2 separate regions of the Homo sapiens genome follow, and region 1 is linked to region 2. The links come from fine-mapping of genetic effects on gene expression. A gene starts in region 2. The other region holds a variant in brackets. All regions are shown on one strand. Distances are from middle to middle. Region 1 holds the start of EID3 (EP300 interacting inhibitor of differentiation 3). Region 2 holds the start of TXNRD1 (thioredoxin reductase 1).

Region 1 (9,048 bases), 91 kb after region 2:
GCGCCTGCAACCACGCCCGGCTAATTTTTTGTATTTTTAGTAGAGACGGGGTTTCACCGTGTTAGCCAGGACGGTCTTGATCTCCTGACCTCGTGATCCGCCCGCCTCAGCCTCCCAAAGTGCTGGGATTACAGGCGTGAGCCACCGTGCCCGGCTGCTTTTGTTGAATTTAAAGTGGATGTGAGAAGCTCCTAAGAATATCGTTCACTGTAAAAGCAGACTTTTTTGGATTTGGGTCTTGGAATTCTTAACTGTATTTTCACCTAAGATTTAAAACAAGTTCAAATACTAGTTTGTAATTGGCCAGACTAGGGACAGATACGATCCTTGAATGATCCTGGGTCTCAACTTACCTTTCTTTCATTTTTCCTTTATTTTAGAAGAGGGATAAGAACTTTTTCTGAAGAGCAGTCAACTTTTCCTTTCAGTGTGTAGGATTAATTCCACGAATCTGTGAACTTAAATCTTTGCTGCCAAATAACTTGCAGTAGATGCTGGGATAGTTTTAAATCTATTTTAAGTTATACATTCAGTACATAAGTGCATCTCCGTGTAAAAACAGCTATGTTTGGAAGATCTAAAACGCAGCTTTTGTTTTTGAGAAGCCAACAATCTAATAGGGTAGGATCATATATATGTACAACTAACCGTAATGCATGGTGTTTTGAAAAATGCACGTATCTCCCTGAATTACCCCTAGTTAATAAAATAATTGGGAGCAAATGGTAATATAAGGATTTTGGAGTAACTTAATACTACTAGATTTTGCTGTTTATACATTTACAAAAAACTTTCTGCTAATGCTAAAGAAATAGAACAAGTCTATATGCATAAAGGAAGGTAGGGCTAATTTACTTCCTGGTGCTATGAAACTGGCAATTGGACAGGTGCAATTGTGGGTGTCTTTTTTTTTTTAAGGTGTACCTGTTGCAGGTTTGAAAAGCTGTTGATGCTCATGGGTTGTTTGTGTGCATGTTCTCTTTAAAAACCAGATGTATTCATTCCCTTTTTTTTTTTTTTTTTTTTTGAGACGGAGTCTCGCTCTATAGCCCAGGCTGGAGTGCAGTGGCCCGATCTCGGCTCACTGCAAACTCCGCCTCCTGGGTTCACGCCATTCTTCTGCCTCAGCCTACCGAGTAGCTGGGACTATAGGCGCCTGCCACCGCGCCCGGCTAATTTTTTGTAGTTTTAGTAGAGACGGGGTTTCACCGGGTTAGCCAAGATGGTCTCGATCTCCTGACCTCGTGATCCGCCCGCCTCGGCCTCCCAAAGTGCTGGGATTGCAGGCGTGAGCCACCGCGCCCGGCCATTCCCATTGTTATGTATACTTTGCTATTTGCTGCTGGTGAGACAGATAAGGAGTCACGTCTTTAACTGCACTTGAGTTTCCAGTGACCCCATTAAATCCAATGGGTAAATTTTCCCACGCAGATTACTCACCCAGTTTACAGATTAAGCTTTCATATCCTTAGACTGTATCTGAAATTTTCATAGCTTTGCCCACCTTTTAGGGTTCAGAGTTACTACCCATTCAGTGTCGGTGGCCTTTAGCTGTTGGCAAGCTTCCAAGTAAATAGCTCTTTTGCAGAGATCTCTACCCATTCTATTCTTCCACTCCTGGGTAGTGGAGAACCAAAGTTCACCTGAGTAATGCCCGTGCCCAGCACCCAGTTTCCTGCAGGGGTTAGCACGGATATTGGAGGCTCCCCCGATCCCACAGATACTCAGGATGGGTATTGGAGGGGGCTTGGTTTTTAAGAGGACATGTGAAAGTAATTAACCCGATTTACATTTGTATAATGAGTCCAAACACCACCTTGCAAAAGAACTGAGAGTTTAGCCTGCTTAATGGAGTTTCTGCTTTTCACGGTCCTTGGCCTTACCGACGGTTTACAGTCCAGCCAGATTTAGTTCACAAAAAACCAAAACCAGGTCGACCTCACTGCAGTATATGATGGCAGCGAGCGTTTTAAAGCGCAGGACCTTTAGTCTCCTCAATAGTTTTGTGTAAAGTTGTCCAAAAGTGTTTTTTTTTAAAGTGAGGTGATCCAGTCGGTAAACGCTTTGAAAAAGAATAGCTGTCCCCTGAGCGGGCATTAGTCGCGTGTGAGGTCAGGGCCCATCATTGCGCGTGTTGGGAGCGCCGCGCTGGTCTATGAGCGAGCGCCTCGGCTTGTGGCTGGGCCGGGCCGGGGCGGGGCTGTCTTCCCGCGGAGCGTGCTGGGGGCGGGTCGCGCCGGGCCGGGCCGCTAGTGCGCATGGGCGGGCGTCCTCGGCTCTAACTGCCGCCACTTTCCACACGCTGGGAGGGCCGTTACCTCAGAGATACCCGTGGCCGGCATGTTGGTTGAAAAAGCTTCCCGGAAGGGAGACGAAGAGAAAGGAGAGGAGCAGCTCGTGATCATCCCCGGTAGCGAGTACGCGGCGAAGTAGGCGGCGGCGGAGGGAGCGCTGATGAAGATGGATGTGTCAGTGAGGGCCGCGGGCTGCTCCGACGACCTCAGCTCTGGGGAGGCCGACGTAGACCCAAAGCTCCTGGAGCTCACCGCTGACGAGGAGAAGTGCCGCAGCATCCGCAGGCAGTACCGGCAGCTCATGTACTGCGTGCGGCAGAACCGGGAGGACATCGTGAGCTCGGCGAACAACTCCTTAACCGAGGCTCTGGAGGAAGCCAACGTCCTCTTTGATGGCGTGAGCCGAACCAGAGAAGCAGCCCTCGACGCCCGGTTTCTTGTTATGGCTTCTGATTTGGGTAAAGAAAAGGCAAAGCAGTTAAACTCAGATATGAACTTCTTTAATCAGTTAGCATTTTGTGACTTTCTGTTTCTGTTCGTGGGTCTGAATTGGATGGAAGGCGATCCTGACAAGTTGAGTGATTGTGATGATAGCATAGCTCTTTCCTTCTGGAAGGCAATAGAAAAGGAAGCAACATCCTGGATGGTAAAAGCTGAGACATTCCATTTTGTTTTTGGTTCATTCAAGCTAGAACGTTCTGCACCAAAGCCCCGACTTGAACACCAGAAAAAAGTTCGCAAGATGGAAGAAAATGGCAACATGCCTACAAAGTTGCAGAAGTTGGACCTGAGTAGTTATCCAGAAGCGACAGAAAAAAACGTAGAAAGGATTTTGGGATTGTTGCAAACCTACTTTCGAAAGTATCCTGATACTCCTGTGTCCTATTTTGAGTTTGTGATTGATCCAAACTCTTTTTCTCGTACTGTGGAGAATATATTTTATGTTTCTTTTATTGTAAGAGATGGTTTTGCAAGAATAAGGCTTGATGAAGACAGGCTGCCAATATTAGAGCCGATGAATGTTAACCA[A/G]ATGGGTGAGGGAAATGATTCCAGTTGCCATGGCAGGAAACAGGGAGTTATATCTTTGACTTTACAGGAGTGGAAAAACATTGTGGCAGCTTTTGAAATTTCTGAGGCTATGATTACATACTCCTCATACTAAAGATTTCTTAGTATAGCATCCTTTTTGTGTTTTTTTTCTGAAGTTAGATGGAGAGTAAAATGTAAACTGAAGCACATATTGTATCTCTTGTAAAGTGAAAAAGTATTTTCAAGAACATCAGACATTGTTTTACTGTGCAGCATATTTTTCTTAGTAATTTATAAGGTCATGATCTTCTGTTATTAAAACAAATTCACTGGCATATTTATGGGAACGTTTTATTGAATGCCCTTTAAGACTATTAATAAAAACAAGTTTTGGATACCAAATTAAGGGATATTTGATAATTTGCAAAACATAATAATTTACGAAAATCAGTGATGATGCTCTGTGATGCGTTGCTTTCTCTGTCATAGGGAACCAAGAGAATCCCAGAAAGGGTTCCTAACCAGGTTGGGCAAAGAGTGGGTAAAAAACAAAAGTTAAAAAAAAAAACCTGTCTGTAAGGCAGTGAATATGCAACATTAAGACTAAAAAAGTCATTGCAAGGAAGACTTAGGATTTATGAGTGAGTATCCATATTCTAAACAATTTCTGTTATTGTACTCAGCAAAAGTAGTGTCTCTGCTGTAGTAGTTGAGGTATCAGCTAAGGGTGAAAGGTGAGTAGAAACACGAAGAAGGAAAAGGCATTCTAGGCAAGAGAATAGCAAGGTCAAATGCATGGAATTGTTAGAAGTTAGGCACGAGAGGACCATTAGATTTATGGAAAAACTATTATATTTGATAAGCTGGGCAACAATTGAATAACTTCATCTATTAATATCCTGAGAAGATGTTTTTGTCAAACTATTATACATTGAACACAAGATCTTGCTATCCAGTTGTAGTTTTTATCTACTGAATTTCTTCTCTGGCCCCTAGTGTCCCTTTGTGGTCTTTGCTAGTACATAGAATGTCCTTCACAATCTACGCTTTTTCATCATGTAACAACTTTGAATATTTGTCCCACTTTAATTTTGCATTTCTATCTTTTTTTTTCCCCCTCGAGACAGAGTATCACTCTTGCCCAGGCTGGGGTGCAGTGGTGCAATCTCGGCCCACTGCAACCTCTGCCTGCGGGGTTCAGGCGATTCTTGTGCCTCAGCCTCCCAAGTAGCCGGGATTACAGGTGTGTGCCATCACACCCAGCAAATACTTGTATTTTTAGTAGGAACAGAGTTTCGCCATGGTAGCCAGGCTGGTCTCGAACACCTGGCCCCAAGTGATCCACCCGCCTCGGCCTCCGGAAATGCTGGGATTACAAGTGTGAGCCAAATTTTGCATTTCTTAATAGGGCTTTAAATGCCAGGAAACTGACCTTGCTGAAACTAAAACATGTTAGTTTATCTGGATGTTCTTCACTTAGTGTAAAGCCATAAAGGCTTTTTTCTTTCCGTTGCATAAATTACAACCTTATTTGGAGATTATTGCCAAAAGTTTGGGTCATTAAGAAAGTAACTTGAGAAGGTGCAGTAAGCATACCCATAAGCTTTCTTCCCCTTGATCCCTATAGGAGCTTAATTTTTGGTAGTCGTGGAATTTTGCCATTAAACAATACTTTGGCAAATGTTTAGGTATCTGTTATGCATAGCAGTGGCAAACTTTCCTAGTAAGTCTAGTGGTACAGGAAAGGGAAATCCAAAGACTCAACAAATGACACCAAGACTGAGAGGAAGGATTTTTCATGTATGGAGATGAGGTTCTTCACCAATAATAGAGTAGAGGTTTTAGCAAAAATAGAACTTTCTCATGAAACTTGGCAAATTATTTTCTAAATTAGTTACTCCTTTCACATATGAAAGAGCGCTGACCCTTGCTAGTGTCTAGTATCCTTTGATTTATAGTAGCAGTCATGGAAGCACCATTTGATCTCACTCATCCTCATTTCCAGCATGTCTCTACCAACCAAGTTCCTTGGGTTTTGCAGAGATCTGCTGTTGGAAGAAAAAGTACTCTTAATGACAGCAAAAAGATCCCGCCCCAGTACTTTACTGACATTCAGTTGCTCTGTTGAATGTCTCATGTCTTTACTAGGAGTATTTGACAGTGATGATTTAAAAGCATTAATAGAGAATCTGGAGGCTTAGGAGAGGTAATTTTTTTGGTCTTCTCTAAAGTTAATAGCTGTTAAAATATAAAGTTGACCACTTCTGTTTCTATTTTTACTGGTTGGCATGACACCAACCAGTAAAATGATGAGGATGATGGATTGCCTCATCATTTTTGAAATTTTGAAATTAAACTGACTGCTTACCTTGAAGAAAAAAGGAGATTAAAAATTTATAGAGGTTAAGAATCAAACTGCAAATCTGCTTGTTTCTTGCTAATACGTTTGTATACTGAATAGAAATAACATTATGCTAGTCTGTCTATATACTGGATCAAGATTTGTTAGGAAGAGGGCATTTCAAAATAGTGGAGATTGACGCAGGGAAGCTCAGCGGAGGACACCAGTGTAAATACATTCCAGCACTTCTTGACTTAGTTCCAGGCAATTTCCCTTCTTCAGGAGATGGAGAATTAGTAACTTAAAGGGATTAATTCCTACCAGCCACTATGCTAACATGCATTATCTTTCTTAAACTCAGCCATTTGATGAGGTCAGGAACCTGTTAGCTTCGTTAAGGATTAGGTGATTGGTCGAAGTCACCTGGCCTTGTGAGTGGTAGAGCAAGTATTTTAACGCAGGTTATTTCTGCATCAGAGCCATCTATAATGGTAGGGGAAATAAAAGTACAAATCTGGCAAAGGATAGAAACTATGTTTAGGGGAAAAGTCAGGATTGCTTATTCCAATTTTAAAAGACTGCCACAGTTGAATTGCTTTCTGTTTTGTGCCCTTTTTGGGGGAGCCTGGAGCAGTGTTTTACTAGGAGTGGGTCTGGGGAAAGGGATTACTATGACAGGCAGGTGGATGAAAAGGAAGGCTATCTAATGTGTAAGCCTTGCCAACAAGTGACAGTTGCCTGCAGGTCATCTCATATTCTATAGCATTGGTTCTCAAAGTGTATGAGGCCCTTTTGGCATACTTTAAGGTCAGAATTATTTTCATAATAGTAAGATGCTGTTTGCCCTTTTCTTTCTTTTTTTTTTTTTTGAGATGGAGTCTCACTCTGTAGCCCAGGCTGGAGTGCAGTGGCATGATCTTGGCTCACTGTGAGCTCCGCCTCCCGGGTTCACGCCATTCTCCTGCCTCAGCCTCTCGAGTAGCTGGGACTACAGGCGCCTGCCACCACGCCCAGCTAATTTTTTATATTTGTAGTAGAGACGGGGTTTCACCGTGTTAGCCAGGATGGTCTCGATCTCCAGACCTCATGATCCACCCGCCTTGGCCTCTCAAAGTGCTGGGATTACAGGCGTGAGCCACCACGCCTCGCTGCCCTTTTCACTCTTAATTCTCTTGCATGTAAACTGTGAAGTTTTCCAGAGGTTATATGACAGGTGATGTGGCAACAGATTGAATGGAGAAACAGATATGAGCTGTCTTTTGTTGTCAGACATTAAAGAGAATCGCAAAGATACAAAACAGTGCCATTCTTCTAATTAAAAAATTTTTTAAAATAAAAATACGTTAACATTTAATAAATATATTATTTTTAATTTGTTAATGAATATTTTAAGTTTCTTCTTAGTTTTAATTTCTAATATAGTAAATAGATAAAACCCACATTAACAAGCTCTTTGGAGTCTCAATTTTAAAGCTCTGTTTAAGATTGTAAAGGAGTCCTGAGATGAAAGAGTTTGAGAACCTCTGTAGCAGCCACCACAGTCAGCGGACATAATTTCAAGCAGTTGTAGTTGGAGGAGGATGGGGGAATTTTTCTCCTTTCCTTATCCCATCTCTGTGCTACCTTCTACTGTTTGGGGCAGCTGTTTTCTACTGTCTGTCTTATTTATATTTCAGGTGAAGTACCACTTAAATGGAACTGAATGATAGCACTTTCAATTTTAAGTTTGGTTAAAATTTTAAAAACAATGTTTCTTTTTTTTTTTTTTTTTGAGACGGAGTCTTGCTCTGTCACCCAGGCTGGAGTGCAGTGCCATGATCTTGGCTCACTGCAATCTCCGCCTCCTGGGTTCAAGCAGTTCTCCTGCCTCAGCCTCCCGAATAGCTGGGACTACAGGTGCACGCCTCCACGCCCGGCTAATTTTTTTTGTATTTTGGTAGAGACGGGGTTTCACCGTGTTGCCCAGGCTGATTGTGAACTCCTGAGCTCAGGCAGCCCTCCCGCTTCGGCCTCCCAAAGTGCTGGGATTACAGGCATGAGCCACCTCACTCAGTCTCATAATGTTTCATTCTAAGGTCAACTGAATGCTTCAATTGCCTGTGTCTTGCCAATTGGTAAATTTTACCTACAGTGCTTAAAAATGGTGAGGTTCATTCAGAGCTTTTTTGGTAAAATCTGTGCACTGGTTGATACAATTTGACTTGAAGCTTGAACCAGGAGAAGCCAGGTTACATACAGAATTTCAGTAAGGAACGGATTGTAAACATTGGTGAAGGGAATATGTGACTTTTCAGCATGAGGATACATTTTCTGGTATTTGTTCTAGTAGGTATGTTGGAGGAGGGGGATTCCTAGAACCATGGTTTTCATTTAGACAGCCAGTTATTGTGTTCTGTCACCATCTTTGCTAATTTCATGCAGATAAAATGAGGTTGAGATAAAAAATGATTGTATGTTATTTTTCCAGCAGAACATCTAACTGGATTTATTAGTTAACTCTTAAACCAGGAAGTCATGCTCTTTGAGACCCAGTAGGGAGTCACACTAGTTACTTGAAGCATAATTGATCCTTTGATCGAATGGCTATTATTACCAAATTGTTTTTCCCCCACAGTGCTTTGTATTGAAGGAGGAACCTTGGCCATAATGCCAGTTGATGACTACTGGCTGTGTTTACCAGCCTCTTGTGCTAGACCTTTTGTGCAGACTGTCAGAGTGGTGCAGTCTTGCCCCCACTGTTGCTGGTTTCCAGGTGTTCTCCCTTCAGTCCCTGAGCCACTACGTATGCCCGCCATGCTGCCAACAGGTAGCCACAGTGCTGTGCTTCCTCCTTCACATTGCTCCACCGCACCCCCTTCCACATCCCAAGAACCTTCTTCTTCCGCTGACCCCAAGCTCTGCCTTTCACCCCCTACATCTGATAGTAGGCAAGAGAGAAATGTGCAGTTTGGGCTGGTAAGTTTGGGGGCTTTTTTTTGTTATTAAAGTTAAGGCTTTTTGTTTGTTTGTTTTTTAAAATGAGATGGAGTCTCACTCTGTGAGACTCCCAGGCTGGAGTGCAGTGGCGCAATCTTGGCTCACTGCAACGTCTGCCTCCCGGGTTCAAGCGCTTCTCCTGCCTCAGCCTCCGGAGTAGCTGAGATTACAGGCACCCGCCACTACACCTGGCTAATTTTTGTATTTTTAGTAGAGACAGGGTTCACCCCGTTGGCCAGGCTGATCTCAAACTCCTGACTTCAAGTGATCCTCCCGCCTTGGCCTCCCGAAGTGCTGGGATTACAGGCGTGAGCCACTGTGCCTGGCCTACTTGATTTTTTGAAAACATTTTATTGTGCTTGTTAACAACTTTCTCAGTCATTATCTCTTGTTAACATAGATTTTTAT
Region 2 (8,542 bases):
TGCATTTGGTTGATGTGTCTCCTGTCTCTCTCTCTCTCTCCCTCTTTATATTGTAGTAAAATATACATGAGAAATTGACAATTTTAAGCATTTTAAAGTATACAGCTTAGTGGCATTAAGCACATTTACACTGTGTGGAACCATCACACCATCCGTCTCCAGAACTACTTCTATCTTACCAAATTAAAACTCTGTACCCATTAAATTAAACTCCTAATTTCCCCCTCCCCCAAATCCCTGGCAACCACTATTCTACCTTCTGTCTTTGCGAATTTGACAACTCTGGGTACTTCATATATCCTAAGTCTCTTTTCATCAATAAGTTCCCACTTCCTCTTTTTCTTCCCTTGCAATTACTGTATTTGTGGATGAAATTGGCAGATTCTGGATTTTGCCATTTACATCCCCATAGTGTTGTTTAACTTGTTCCTTTATCTTCTTTTTCCTATAAGCTGGATGTAGGGAATTTATTTATTTATTTATTTATTTATTTATTTATTTATTTAAGACGGAGTCTCGCTCTGCCGCCCAGGCTGGAGTGCAGTAGCGGGATCTCGGCTCACTGCAAGCTCCGCCCCCCGGGTTCACGCCATTCTCCTGCCTCAGCCTCCCGAGTAGCTGGGACTACAGGCGCCTGCCACCACGCCTGGCTAATTTTTTTGTATTTTTTTAGTAGAGAGGGGATTTCACCATGTTAGCCAGGATGGTCTCGATCTGACTTCGTGATCCACCTGCCTCGGCCTCCCAAAGAGCTGGGATTACAGGCGTGAGCCACCGCTCCCGGCCAATTTATTCATTTTTAAATATCATTTGAAGGTAGAGTGGACAGGACTTGCCGGCCAATTGAAGGTGGAGTATGAGAGAGAAGAATCAAGGATGACGCCAAGGTTTTTGGCCTGAGCAAGTGGAAGAATGGAGTTGCCATTTTCTGAGATGGGGAAGACCGTGGGAATAGGTTTGGGAGGGGACAATCTGCTTGGACATTTTAGGCTTGAGATGTTTATTAGACACTCAAGTGGAGATGCCAGGTGCCAGGTGAATATGTGAGCCTGGAGTTAATGAAAGTGGCTGCAGCAGGAGACATAAGTTTGGGAGTTGTCAGCAGATAGATGACATTTAAAGCTCTGAGACTAAAGGAGATCACCAGAGAAGCAAATGCAGATTATAAGAGAGAGAGGAGGGGAGAAGTTCGAGGACTGAGCTTTAGTACTTCAATATTAAGTGCCAGGAAAATTGAGGAGGAACCAGCAAAGGAGACTGAGTAGGGGCATCCAGCACAATAGGAGAAAATCTAGGTTAGTGTGGTACCCTGGAAGCCAATCATTCTAAGGAGGAGATTATGAAACATGGGTCATATGTCATGGATAGGCCAAGTAAGATGAGGACTGGGAATTAATTATTATTGGGTAGAAAAGAGATGCCCTCCCCCAGGCATGGTGGCTCACGCCTGTAATCCCAGCACTTTGGGAGGCCGAGGTGGGTGGATCATCTGAGGTCAGGAGTTTGAGACCAGCCTGGCCAACATGATGAAACCCCGTCTCTACCAAAAATATAAAAAATTAGCTGGGTGTGGTGGCATGCACCTGTAATCCTAGCTACTCAGGAGGCTGAGGCAGGAGAATTGCTTGAACCCGGGAGATGGAGGTTGCAGTGAGCTGAAAGTGTGCCTCTGCACTCCAGCCTGGGCGACAGAGTGAGACTCTGTCTCAAAAAAAGAAAAGAGATGCCCTCCCTTTTGATGCTCTTTAAACAAATCATGTATAATTAAATTAAAACTCAATGGCCAGGTGCAGTGGCTCACGCCACTTTGGGAGGCCAAGGCGGGTGGATCACCTAAGGTCAGGAGTTCAAGACCAGCCTGGCCAACATGGTGAAACCCTATCTCTACTAAAAATACAAAAAAGTAGCCAGGTGTGGTGGCGTGCACCTATAGTCCCAGCTACTCAGGAGGCTAGGCAGGAGAACTGCTTGAACCCGGGAGGTGGAGGTTGCAGTGAGCCAAGACGGCACCACTGCACTCCAGCCTGGGTGACAGAGTGAGACTCCATCTCAAAAAAAAAAAAAAAATTAGGCCGGGTGCGATGGCTCAAGCCTGTAATCCCAGCACTTTGGGAGGCCAAGGCGGGGGGATCACGAGGTCAGGAGATCGAGACCATCCTGGCTAACACGGTGAAACCCGTCTCTACTAAAAATAAAAAAAAATTAGCTGGGTGTGGTGGCGGGCGCCTGTAGTCCCAGCTACTCAGGAGGCTGAGGCAGGAGAATGGCGTGAACCCGGGAGGAGCTTGCAGTGAGCCAAGATCTCACCACTGCACTCCAGCCTGGGCGACATAGTGAGACTCCATCTCATAAAAAAAAAAAAAATTAAAAAAATTAAATCTCAAAACAAAGTTCCCAGGGAAACATTCTTTTCATGTATAGGAATTAGTGGAGTGTGATGTCATAGTAATAAGAGAGGTTAGTGGTTAAGAGCAGAGGCTTGGAAATTAGGAAACCTGGATTTCAGTATCAAGCTGTGTGATCCTGTGCAATTAATCCCCTAAGCATCAGGATTCTCCTCTGTAAAATAGGAATAATAAGAGACCCTTCTAAATGTGGCTCTTGCAGGAAAAACATGAGATAAGCATACTTTTATGCCAGTAAAGGACTTAGCAGGATGCCTGGCTCGCCGTAAGTACCCAACAAATTGTTGGCTATTATAAATATGATAGGATGACACAGGTAGGCACATGACTCTCAGATACTTTTGCCTAGGTGTTTAAAATAACAGGAAAGCCATCATCTTAGTTAAATACATGTACTAAATAGAGAAAAATACATGACAGCCACAGTTGGAATTTTGATGATAAAATGGTAATTTTAACATAAATTGAATAGCATATTTAAAAAAAAAATCTCTGAAACAGTCATTCCAGTGGAACCAAGGAACTGTAGACCTGGCTCGCAGAGGGAGGGAACTTTGCTTTTAAAGGGTCCTGGCTTAGTTGCATTAGTTACTACAGACACCAAACACTTGGATGAAGTTGTTATTAGGATTTACTTTAGGGCCGGGCACGGTGGCTCACACTTGTAATACGAGCACTTTGGGAGACTGATGCAGGTGGATCACCTGAGGTCAGGAGTTTGATACCAGATTGACCAACATGGTGATACCCTTTTTCTACTAAATACAAAAAATTAGGCAGGCATGGTGGCTGATGCCTGTAATCCCAGCTACTTGGGAGGCTGAGGCAGGAGAATCACTTGAACCTGGGAGGTGGAGGTTGCAGTGAGCCAAGATTGTGCCATTGCACTCTAGCTTGGGCAACAAGAGCAAAACTCCATCTCAAAAAAAAAAAAAAAAAAAGAAAGAGAGAGAGAGAGATTTACTTTAGCTTTGTGCAATGTCTGTTATTAAAAGCCTTTGGTGGCCGGGCACGGTGGCTCATGCCTGTAATCCCAGCACTTTGGGAGGCTGAGGTGGGTGGATCACAAGGTCAGGAGATTGAGAACATCCTGGCTAACATGGTGAAACCCCGTCTCTACTAAAAATACCAAAAAAAATTAGCGTGGTGGTGGACGCCTGTAGTCCCAGCTACTAGGGAGGCTGAGGCAGAAGAATAGCGTGAACCCGGGAGGCGGAGCTTGCAGTGAGCCGAGATCGTGCCACTGCACTCCAGTCTGGGCAACAGAGCGAGACTCCATCTCCAAAAAAAAAAAAAAAAAAAGCCTTTGGTTCAGTTTTATTTGTTTTCTGTGTTTAAGCAAATAAACACCCAGTGTTTTCCAAGAGCATTTTGACTCTGGGCTGCTCTCCAGAGAAGCAGGATATAAGCTTGTCCACAAACCCAAATGAAAACAAAGGGCCCACACAATTGCCACGCATCTGGTGACCAGACAAGTTCACTAAATCTCAGCTGGGGTGGAAGTTCCTTGAGACCAGGGAATTTGAGTCACCTTGTAACCCTAAACAAAGCCAGGCATAAGTTGGATGCTTACCATATGTTAGTTAATTGAAAGAAGGAAAAACAGAGCACTGCACTGATAGAGAACAGTGACTGTGCACCTGATGTGCCGCAATGTGGTTTGGTGTTAAAAAAAATCACTCTCATTCATTACTAGTAGGAGTTCAAATGGGAACCACAGTTCCAAAAAAGCAATTTTGGCAACGTGTAATGACAGCCTTAAAACTATAAACACAAAGATGTTCCCTGCAGCCTTATTCATAATTTTTAAAAATAAAAAACAAACTAAACATCTAATAATAGGCTATGTAATCGTCCAGTAGCTCTAGTGGATGGACTATTACATTATTATAATTATTCAAATTAATATTTTCCCGCTTCTTCCCTGCTTTCCTTCAAGAGGTGGGGGAGGCCACCTGGCCCAAGCTGAAGGCCAAGATACAAGAAAAAAATGCAAAGGTTCTATTTTGGCAGCGTTTACATGGGCAGGGTGTCGTGGGGAGGCTGGCGGAGGGAGTGGGAGCAGGTGACAGAGAATATAGGGTAAGTTAGAAGGCTCTCAGTGCTGGTAAAAATAAAATAGAGTAAAGTAAAGGGTGGGGGTAGAGTTGAGGGGGGCGTGATCAGATTTCTGTTCAAATAGGATGGTCTTTTTGCTGTGAACTTAAGACTGCTCTAAGGCCAGGCGCAGTGGCTGACGCCTGTAATCCCAGCACTTTGGGAGGCCGAGGCGGGCGGATCACAAGGTCAGGAGATCGAGACCATCCTGCCTAACACGGTGAAACCCCGTCTCTACTAAAAATACAAAAAATTAGCTGGGCATGGTGGCACACGCCTGTAGTCCCAGCTACTCGGGAGGCTGAGGCAGGAGAATCGCTTGAACTTGGGAGGCAGAGGTTGCAGTGGGCTGAGATCGCGCCACTGCACTCCAGCCTGGGTGACAGAGTGAGACTCCGTCTCAAAAAAAAAAAAAAAAAAAGACTGCTCTAAAAAATAAAGTGTATTAAAAAGAAACTACGATGTTCAGTGTATGCTTCATCTACGGTCAAAGAGGCAAAGACTGAAGTGACAGTGGAAGCCAGGTGGTTATCTGGGAGGCTTACAAGACTATGTGATAGTATGGAAAATACTAGTATTAAGTGAAATGCTGGATGCAAAACTATGCATAGAGGGGAAAAACTGGAAAGAAATAGTAAACACAGCAAAAGTAGTTTGTGTGAAGGATAAATTTTTTAAAATTATTTTTTGTAGAAACAGGGTTTCTCTACATTGCCCAGGATGGTCTCAAACTCCTGGGCTCAAGCGATCAATCCTCCCACCTCGGCCTCCCAAAGTGCACAGGTGTAAGCCACCGCGCCCAGCCGAAGGATAAGGATTTTGGGTGGTGCGCTCTTTTCTCCTTTCCATTTCTGCATTTTCCAATTTACCTTTAGCGACCGTTCTTTCCTGTTAAAAAAAAAAAATTCACGACCTTGAAGAAGATACACGGGCTATGACTTCGCTGTTGTCACCGAGCGCCCCGCCCACCGCGTTCTCCGACCCGCGGCCGGCAGGGGGCTCGCGGCCTCCGCCAGGCGTCCTTCGGCTCCGTCAGTTCCCACAGGGCCTTGTGCGACATGGGCTGCGCCGAGGGCAAGGCAGTGGCGGCGGCCGCCCCAACGGAGCTGCAGACGAAAGGCAAGAACGGCGATGGCCGCCGTAGGTCAGGTACGACCGAGGGCGAAGGCCTGGTCCCCAGGTCGACGGGCCGAAGCGGGCCTTCCGGCCGGGGTTGGGGATAAAGTGCCCCGGAGCCCTGGCCTTGAAGCCCCTCACTGGAGTCAGTGACTGACCGCGCGCCACGCTGGAGACCCCAGAAACGCTCCCCCAGGTCACCCCGGGAGACGGAGGCCGGCGGCCGGCCGAGGGCTGCCCCGCCCGCTGGCTGTGAGAGAGGTGGGAGGTGGAAGGAGGAGCGGGCCCGCCGCGAGGACCTGCCCGGAAACCTGTCGGAAACCGAACCGAGATCTCGGCAGCGACCCGCCTGATTTCGCTCAGGGCCCGTTAGGGCGTCCTCTTCCTACAAGCACCGTGTTTCCAATGAAAGGTTACGGGGGAAGCGACCAAACCGACAGCCGAGTCCGGGGGTGCCCCTTCACCTCTCCAGAAGCCCCCGGCCCACTCCCAGCATCCTCCTCCATCGAGAATCTTGTCCGACACGCCTTCCCGGCCCCCTTTCTCCATCCCCTTGAATTTTGGGCACATTTCTCCCACCATCATCCCGCTTTATCCTTTCACTTGTTCTTCCAGAAGAGAAAGCTCCCAGTCTCTTCTCCATTGTCCGGATAATGCCAATAATGGCTAGTGGTTACTAAGCACTGACATGAGAGGGGCCTTTGGAAGCACTAGACATGGGTAATAATCTTGGTTCATGTTTCCAGCCATACTGAGAGATTTATCATAAACCCCATTATACAGATGAAGAAACTGAGAAGCAAAGAGGTTATAAAACTTACCCAAAGCACACAACTAGTAAGTGGAAGAGCTGGGATACCAGTTGAGGCCATCTGACTCAAAAGCCCTGGTCATAGTCATATGGCCGCCTCCACCTTTTTTATAGGCTTGAGAAAGTGAGGCTCCAAAAAGTGCCTTGCCCAATGGCTAGAATTATTAAATGCTGTAGGATCTGCCTCTTTCAAAGGCTTACAGTTTAGTTACAAGGCAGCATATGGTGAAGGGCTAAAAGGAGTGGTAAAAACAGCCAAGTGGGGATGGCAGCTCCCATAGATGAGGTAGGATTTGGTAGAGGTGTCTGAAGGGAGAACATTCTTGTTAGGGGAAGCAGCCGGTGAGACCATGCTAGAGATAGGGAGGCCTGTATATCCTGCTGGAGTTAAGGACTTGGATTAGGGGAAGGGAAGAATAAAGGAACAGGGTAGGAGCAAGGTCAGGCAAGGTCCAGGTCAGGCAGCTAATTTGTGGCCATTAGTACAATGAAGGAGTTTGAGCAGGTGCATCCCAAATTGACGTTTCATGTGCCATCCTCAGGATCTTCTTGATATCTATGTCCTTCCATTTATTTACTGTTTTTCTTTAGCTACATTCTTTTTGTGTGTGGTTAAAAAAAAAAAATTTACCATCTTAACAATTTTGTTTTTTTTTTTTTTTTAGTTTCGCTCTCGTTGCCCAGGCTGGGGTGCAATGGCGCCATCTTGGCTCACCTCAGCCTCCACCTCCCAGGTTGAAGCGATTCTCCTGCCTCAGCCTCCCAAGTAGCTGGGATTACAGGCATGCACCACCACGCCTGGCTAATTTTGTATTTTTAATAGAGACAGGTTTTCACCATGTTGGTCAGGCTGGTCTTGAACTCCTGACCTCAGGTGATCTGCCCACCTCAGCTCCCCAAAGTGCTGGGATTACAGGCATGAGCCACTGCACCCAGCTGACCCTAACCGTTTTTAAGTATACAGTTTTCAGCAGTATTAAGTATATTCACATTGTTGTGAAGCAGATCCCCTGAACTTTTTCATCTTGCAAATCTGAAACTCCATGCCAACTCGTTAACTTTTCATTTGCCGTTTCCCCCAGCCCCTGGTATCCATCATTCTACTTTCTGTTTCTGTGAAATTTGGCTACTTTAGATTGCTTATATAAGTTGGTATCATACAGTGTCTGTCTTTTTGTGACTGGCTTGTTTCACTTAGCATACTTGTCTTCGAGTTTCATCTGTATTGTAGCATGCGACAGGATTTCCTTACTTTTTAAGGCTGAATAATATTCCATTGTGTGTGTGTATATGTACATACACACACACATATATACACACACACACACACAAAATGGAATATATATACACACACACACCACATTTTTTTTTTCCCGAGATGGAGTCTTGCTCTATCGCCAGGCTGGAGTGCCGTGGCATGATCTTGGCTCACCACAATCTCCGCCTCCTGGGTTCAAGCAATTCTCCTCCCTCAGTCTCCCAAATAGCTGGGATTACAGGCCCGCCACCATGCCCAGCTAATCTTTGTATTTTTAGTAGTGACGGGGTTTCACCATGTTGGCCAGGCTGGTCTTGAACTCTTGACCTCGTGATCTTCCCGCCTCAGCCTCCCAAAGTGCTGGGATTACAGGCTTGAGCCACCACGCCCGGCCTGAACTATTTTATAATACAGAAAAGCTCACTCGTTATAATACAACTTGCTAAATTTTTACAAACGAAGTATATGCATGCAGCCCACACTCAGCTGAGGAAATAAACGTTTCCAGTACCCCAGGAGCCCCTCTAATGTCTCTTACCCCCATACCAAGGGCAAACACTACTCTGATTTCTAACAGCATAGAAGAATTTCACCTATTTACATTTACTTTTTGAAACTTAAATTTAGGCATATTTTAAGCATTAATCTATTAAAGCACGGCTTTATACTAGGTATTTTTCTTTTTCTTTTCTTTCTTTTTTTTTTTGAAATAGGGTCTTGCTCTGTTGCCCAGGCTGGAGTGCAGTGGCCCAATCATAGCTCATTGCAGCCTCAACCGCCTGGTCTTAAACAATCCTCCCACCTCAGCCTCCTGTGTGGTAAAGTGTGCCACCAAGCCCAGCTAATTTTTTTACA

Evidence for each region.
Region 1: its variant is fine-mapped to the expression of TXNRD1 in whole blood (INTERVAL, PIP 0.98).

The regions. Positions count from the first base shown.
Region 1 is chr12:104,301,481-104,310,528 of GRCh38, forward strand. The region is part of intron 4 of TXNRD1 (thioredoxin reductase 1); the gene reads left to right. It overlaps EID3 (EP300 interacting inhibitor of differentiation 3), which reads left to right and starts at 2,259. Exons shown (of 1, transcript NM_001008394.3): 1 at 2,259-3,725. The coding sequence starts at 2,455. The coding sequence ends at 3,456. RefSeq lists enhancers at 226-395, 2,187-3,059, 2,367-2,606, 2,637-2,696 and a silencer at 2,097-2,326. The variant A/G (reference allele first, on the strand shown) is at 3,324.
Region 2 is chr12:104,210,243-104,218,784 of GRCh38, forward strand. It overlaps TXNRD1 (thioredoxin reductase 1), which reads left to right and starts at 5,537. Exons shown (of 17, transcript NM_001093771.3): 1 at 5,537-5,651. The coding sequence starts at 5,561. RefSeq lists enhancers at 5,313-5,929, 5,930-6,545 and a silencer at 5,400-5,489.